Linked DNA regions of Homo sapiens: region 1 is reported to be linked to region 2. Evidence: microRNA targets listed by miRTarBase, many of them from high-throughput screens and not tested one by one. Region 2 holds a microRNA gene; the other region holds the end of a gene's coding sequence.

Region 1 (3,410 bases), not on the chromosome of region 2:
GCAAGACCTTGGCATAAGTAGCTCAGGTGATAACTCAAGGCAATTTTTAGTTGTTTATCTAGGTAACATGCAACATTTATACTAGAGGGGGACAAAGTCTACATCAGGTGGCAAAACGTCAAGACATTTCTCTTCTCTGCAGCATCGTAAAACTAAACCTTTAGGATCATGCCTACTATCCATTTGCATAAGATGTTGAAGATTTTATCCTTCACAACATAACAATGCCTAAAAAAAAAACAAAAAACCCGAAAGAGGCCTAAATCCCCTGGATCAATTACCAGGAGAGACCTTATTATATGTGGCTCAGTCCATAAATCTAAAGTGTACATTTGTCCAATTACAATTTACATAGTTATCCACCATTTCAAGCATGTCAGTGATATTCTCTGCTCTGATCTGGAAAAAAAGAACAACTAGACGGATGACCACACTAAAAAAAAAAAAGTTAAGTCCTTTCTTTTGAATTATGCTAGAGAATTTTTAAAAAGTCCTTTCTTTTAAATTATGCTAGATAATTCTTTGAGTATTAATTTTTTTTGAGACTGAATCTCACTCTGTCGTCCAGGCTGGAGTGCAATGGCATGATCTCAGCTCACTGCAACCTCCACCTCCCGGGTTCAAGCTATTCTCCTGCCTCAGCCTCCTAAGTAGCTGGGACTACAGGAACCCAACATCATGCCCAGCTTTTTGTATTTTTGTAGAGACAGGGTTTCACCATGTTGACCATGCTGGTCTTGAACTCTGACCTCAGGTGATCCTCCTGCCTTGGCCTCCCAAAGTGCTGGGATTACAGGCATGAGCCACTGCGCCCGGGCTGAGTTTTAATTTTGTGACTGCTCTTTGGTAGATTTTAAATATTAGAGGTAGGCCCTAAATAGAAAGAACACCATGGTGCTTTTGCTCTCATGCATTTCGGTTTTAACGTTAAAGTATGAAAGAAATATGAGTTCATTTTCATGGATAATAATATAACTTTATTGTGTGCAGCCTTTCCACACCAATTTAGTTTTTCTATGAAATAAGATTTCAAGTGGTAAAGTTACTGTTAAGGAGACACACTGGAAAAAGCTGAAGAGTTTTTTTGTCTGAAACTGAAAAACAGAAAAGTCTAGGGGGAAAGATGTGAGAAAACTACTATAGGCTACAAAGACCACAAAAACAGTTTTGGGGATTAGAAGGGGGTGACATTGAGTGAGTGTGTGGGAAGAGAAGGGCTGGGCAAATTATCTCAGAAGAGGGGGTAGTAGGATTTCAGGTGGATGTTTAAGGTATTTGCTTGGCAGATATAATCTAGGAATCTCCTAGCTCTTGCATTTCCTGCTATCTGTAACTTTATTATGTAGTATAATAATTTTTTATTTAGCACAAAGTTCATTTGGACTAGAGAATCGGAAGGTGCTAATTTTGTCCCCGGCTAGCAAAGTCATACCTGAGGTATGCGCTGGAAAACAACTGGAAGACCTAGGCAGGGGAATTCAAAGTTGTTTTTTTTTTAAATTTTATTATCCTGTCTTGGTTTCCTTATTGAATAGATTTCCACAGGAAAAATACTGTGAGTTTACTGATCTGCTGCAGAATTGGAATTTAGACTCACAATAAAGAGAGTTAAAGATAGATCCAAAGGTTCACTTAAAATAAAAATCACCAGACAGAACAGGCTACTGAAGAGTCTCTTCCCCGTGGTTAAGTTTCATCATACACATAAGGCTTTGGAGCAGCTGTCCTCAAATGCTTCTATCCAAAACCCACTCCTCTTCTGGAGTTTCTGAACCCTTTATGTTCCACATCCACCTCCTCTCTCTTCCCATGGCTCTCTACAGAGCCATTTGTGACATGTCTACCTGACACTTTTGGGGACGTGGTAAGTAAAAGAGGCAAAGTCCCTAACACTTATTAGAAACGTGAGAAGAGAAAAATGTGCTTGGACTTGCTTTAGTATTCTAATTGGCACACATGCCAAAAGACTAACGATCTTGTATGCTGAGGTGGAAATGAGCCTCTAATAAAAGCTACGAAATCCTCTAATACAAGATACAAAAACTTATACATTACACCAGTCTAGCTGAAACATAATTTTTTGATACTCTTTGACTGAACTTTAGACAGAAAAGACAAAACTGAAATGGAGGAACGTAATTTAAGTGTGGCAGAAAGTTGGGAATCATGCGGCCTGATATACAAAGATAAATGCATCACTGAGGCATATTCCCCTGGCCTTGAGGTATGCAGGCAAAGGAGAGGTCACACCTTCCTGGGAGACAAAGGATCAAAGTTGACACAGAGCTCCAAGAAAATATTTACCAGAAGAATGTGATGATTCATTTATCAGTCCAGAAATCCCAAGTACAAAACTTCAAGATACAAGAAGGATCAAATTATATCATATATATGATTCAATTTAAAAATTCTTAGCCCTCTTATATCATATTATCTAGATTATAATAGTAAAAAATCAAGTTACATTCATATGAAACTTTCATAAAAAGAAATCAAATCCAGTTTTATGAAATTTTATAGTACAATTACTTTCTAGTGGGTCTTTTCTTAGGTCACAGTATTTATAATTCCATTTACATCTTTATAATTTTTAAAATTAGAAAACAAAAGGATGTCAATAGAAATCTAAATTTTCACTTGCAAAACTCCCTTCAGTTTCCAGGCCAGTAACACATGGTGATGTCGACTTGTCCTCCAGACATGGACGGCTACCAAAGATCCCCAGTTCACGGAGCATGCAGGCCTCTACTCATTAGGAACGCTTTTTGGTTTGGCTCACGTTTCAAGAAATTGTGGAGCATGTCCATGCCGTCCAGAGATCCCCCAGGTTTCAGGATTAGGTTTCTGTATTTCATTCCAACCTAATAAAATAAAACATCATACCTAATAATTCATGGTTCTAGCAATTTTCCAAATCTCTAGATGCAAAAGAGGAGAGGGTAGGGGTGAAGGAAAAAGGACTTTAGCCTTACTCTGTCTAGATGTTTTCTCTTGCTCACAAACAGCTCTGTAGTATTTATTTATTTTGGTAGCTAAGAGATTTGGAGCTTAAAACTTCAGGTCTTCTACACTGTCCTTTATTATGGTCTTGTCTCCTTAGATTCTAAGCAGTGAGCTGACAACATGAACAAACAAACAAAATATAGCCAAATGGAATATACAACAGGTTCCTATTTGCTATGCTATCTCTCGTGATTTCAAAAGGCTTAGAAAGCAAGTGTTCACGAAGGCTACAAATAGCCTTCTGGGTACTCAGAAACAGTAGCATGGCTACTGTCAAATGGTTTCTGCTGCTTTTATGATGGGCTCATTCAAAACAACAACAACAGAACCCTCTTCCTTATGGATGAGAGAAGAAGGGCTGTACGTGCCCCGCAGGGGAGGGCAAGACATTTTTGTGGGTCCGATGC
Region 2 (3,410 bases):
TCTTCCTGTACACAAATAACCCATGTTAGGTTAACCCCAGGGTAAACTATGTTGTTAATGAGAAGCTCTACAACTTGCTCAAGACCACACAATGAATCAGTGCAGAACGAACATACAAACCTCTTTCTTGTTCACCACATACACCATTGATACCCTTGATATGGACACAACCATAGTCAATGGGGGCTTGGCATCTGAACTACAAGGATGGTGAATGACCAATGGGTGCAGGGTTCTACCAAACTCTGTTCTTGATCAAAAAATATCCATGCCCTGCTTCCCTGCTCAGAACTCAGAGGAAGGCAGCAGCTGAGGACAAAACCTGATGCCACCACCCTGGAACCATGCAAGGCAGATGAGGGTGGCAGGTTTCCTGGCAGTTCCCTGGGCTTTCTGAGTTCTGAACATTACTCCAGCCTGTTGGTGAGGCCCTTCTCTTACTTGTTCTGTGTTCCAGAGTATATCTTGGAACCTCCACCCTGCATATCAGCACCTGAAAACTGTACTCACCTGTGTACAATGCAGGAAGATTGCGAGAAAGGATTTCAGTGCTGTTCCTCCTTCTGTGGGATAGTCTGTTCATCAGAAACATTTCAAAAGCGCAACAGGTAAGAGATATCTCATATCCAGGTCTGATCCTAGAGCTGCTGGTGGGAGCCCAGCAGAAGAGTCCCTTACCAGCAACTGTGCTGGATCTCTCCTTTTTTTTTTTTTTCCTTGGTGGCCATGTTGCCAACATGCCCCTTCTCTTGACCAAGGATAATTTCCATAAAAGTCCTGATTAGAAAAGCCCTCCTCCCCTCCCAATCACCACATCCCATCACCATATCCGTGAATTTCTGACTCTGCCTCTCTGAACACACCCACAAATGCCTTTATCCACAGACCTTCCCCCGACCCAGAATCCACCCTTATCCCAGGGACACTGTACCTGCAGGTGTAACCAAAATCCCAAAGCAAAATTTGTCCTACACTTTTGCTTGCCCTCCTTTCACAAGACACCATCCTTTGGCCACCAGTGTTCTTGGGCTCTGGAGATCCAGCCCAAAGGAAGTTTTGATTAATTGTCCAGACATTAACACTAGCCGCAAGCCTGCTAAATGGAGTGTGCTCCCAGGGCAGAGAAAGGACATAGGGTGCTGATGAGACATATGGTTTCTAATCCCATCTTGCAACTATGTCTTTCTATGACCTTGAGTAAGACAATTCCCTCTTTTTTACTTTCTTTTTCTCATGAGTAAAATAAGTACTCTTGTTTTTTCCTGCTTTGCAAGGCCCATATGAAATTTCAAAAGACTCACAGTGGAAGACTCAACCAATGAGCCCTTTGAGGGAAGCCTGGCAGTCTTGTTCCCTGCTGTATTCCCTACCATGAGCAGAATACCCAGCATGAGATAATGTGCAGAGTGATTAAGCATGGGCTCAAAGCCAAACACCTGGGCTCAAATCCTGGCTTCTTAGCTAAGTGACCTTAAGTGATCTTAGACAAGCTAATTAACCTCTCTCTGGGCATCAACTTCCTCATCCTTAAGACTGGAACAATAATAGTGAGGTTAAAATAGACAATCCATGTAAGCTTTAAAACATTACTTGCCAACATAATTGCTGTGAATTTTGGGGATTAGGCAACCACTTCTCTTTGAAGAGACTAGCCCTTGCAATTAAATTCCACATCTTTCAATGCTCTACATTGGAATGCAGAAGCATAAATATAACTCTTTGGTGTCATTGAGTTTTTTGAGGTTCTGCCTTCCCTATGGCAAGAGAAATGAGCTTCATGGTCTAATATTAATGGTGGAAGTAATTGAAAGAAAAATATATATCTCTAAAAGTAAAACTTCACTAGTTAATATTTGAAAATATTTTTCTTCTACAGAATCAAACACAAGGGCTCAGAAGTCATCATGCCTGCCAACTGAGGCATATTTCCTAGATCATTTTGTAAGTACAGGGATTTGGTCTCGCCTTCCTCATGTGAGATTCCCAGGGATGCTCACTTTCTTCCTGTAGCCTCACCAGGGGCACTACATTCCCACAAGCTCAGAATGGCCTCTCATTACCTGATTGCCTCCTCCTCCATCATTCCCCTCCAAGGGCTATCTTTGCACTCCCTGGGGGAGGCACGGTGCAGTCCAGCATGAATTCTGCAACACAGAGCAATGTAAGGAACCAAGTCATGGCCCAGGGGGAACCCAGGGCACTCAGATCTGAGGCTTTGTCAAGGAACAAGCTCTTCTAGCCTCCGGGTTGACAGCACCCTGGGCAGGGACTCAAGCTGAGCCCTTCACGCTCTGAGACTTTGGTCTGCTCACTGTACCTCTCTGAGACAGTCACCTCCCTCATGTGAAATATGAAGAAAACATCCATGCCTTGGGGTATTGGGAGGACAACACAAGGCCATGTAGATGGAAGAACTTGGTCTCTGCAAAGGTAGAAACTGCCAGCAACTCACTTACAAGGTCACTCATTCAGGTTCCAGTTTTTTCTCTGAAAAAAGAGGGAGTGGGCCGGGTATGGTGACTCACACCTGTAACCCCAGCACTTTCGGAGGCCAAGGTGGACGGATCACGAGGTCAGGAGTTCAAGACCAGCCTGACCAACAGAGTGAAACCCTGTCTCTACTAAAAATACAAAAATTAGTTGGGTGTGATGGTGCACACCTGGAATCCCAGCTACTCAGGAGGCTGAAGCAGGAGAATTGCTTGAACCCAGGAGGCAGAGGTTGCAGTGAGCCAAGAGTGCACCATTGCACTCCAGCCTGGGCGACAGAGTGAGACTCCGTCTCAAAAAAAAAAAAAGAGGGAGTGGGAATCATCTTTATTATTTTACTGATGCTTCAAGAATGGTGAACAAAATGGAGTCCTGTGGAATTCCACCACCAAAAAAATGATAGTATTCATAAGTTGGTGGATTTCGTTTCAGAGTATTTGAAAGAAAAAGTTAGAAGTTTAGGGTCTTCTAATGGGCCTTCTGATGTCTCCAGATGTTCCAAATTAGAATGGTGGTCTTTCAGCTTAGTCCTTTTATTAACCCTGTACAAAGGAGCGTGATAAATAGTAGCAGGTGGAGGCCAGTGGAGCAGTTTAGACGCATGAGCACTTGCCCAGGCTCCGGTGAGCCCACCATGCTGCGGATGAGCTCCCACTCATGCTTCAAGGTTTCTATTAAATTAAACACTCCATAGAAACTTCACCAGTTCACTCCAGACAGAATTAGTCCCTCTCTTTGTCTTTTGTAGTGTCCTATCTTTGGCCTACCATAACCTAGTGACCCCTGATCCAGGGCAGGAAATACTGTTCAGAAAAATCTATAGACTCTTTTACTACCAGAAACTGACCATATGTGGTTCGAGTTGACCTGAGTGAGGCAGGTCTCTTACATACAGGTTGGCTATCACTGTTTTAATAATC

What was found. Region 2 holds the annotated microRNA hsa-miR-3617-5p (AAAGACAUAGUUGCAAGAUGGG, at 1,164-1,185, opposite strand). A microRNA usually pairs through its seed, bases 2 to 8, with sites in the 3' UTR of a target mRNA and lowers its output. Matches are read on the target gene's strand: a 7mer-m8 pairs with bases 2 to 8, a 7mer-A1 pairs with bases 2 to 7 and ends in A, and an 8mer does both.
Region 1: the mRNA of NLN is a reported target of hsa-miR-3617-5p. Seed matches in the 3' UTR shown: 7mer-m8 at 121-127.

What each region holds. Positions count from the first base shown.
Region 1 is chr5:65,822,232-65,825,641 of GRCh38, reverse strand. NLN (neurolysin) reads right to left here. Exons shown (of 13, transcript NM_020726.5): 13 at 1-2,861. The coding sequence ends at 2,727. Among named protein-coding and RNA genes, the nearest start is that of NLN, 100 kb to the right of the region's middle.
Region 2 is chr20:45,703,987-45,707,396 of GRCh38, forward strand. It overlaps MIR3617 (microRNA 3617), which reads right to left and starts at 1,194; the gene lies at 1,116-1,194. It overlaps WFDC10B (WAP four-disulfide core domain 10B), which reads right to left and starts at 1,033. Exons shown (of 4, transcript NM_172006.2): 1 at 932-1,033; 2 at 511-575. WFDC13 (WAP four-disulfide core domain 13) reads left to right here. Exons shown (of 4, transcript NM_172005.2): 2 at 458-608; 3 at 1,877-1,941. The coding sequence ends at 1,919.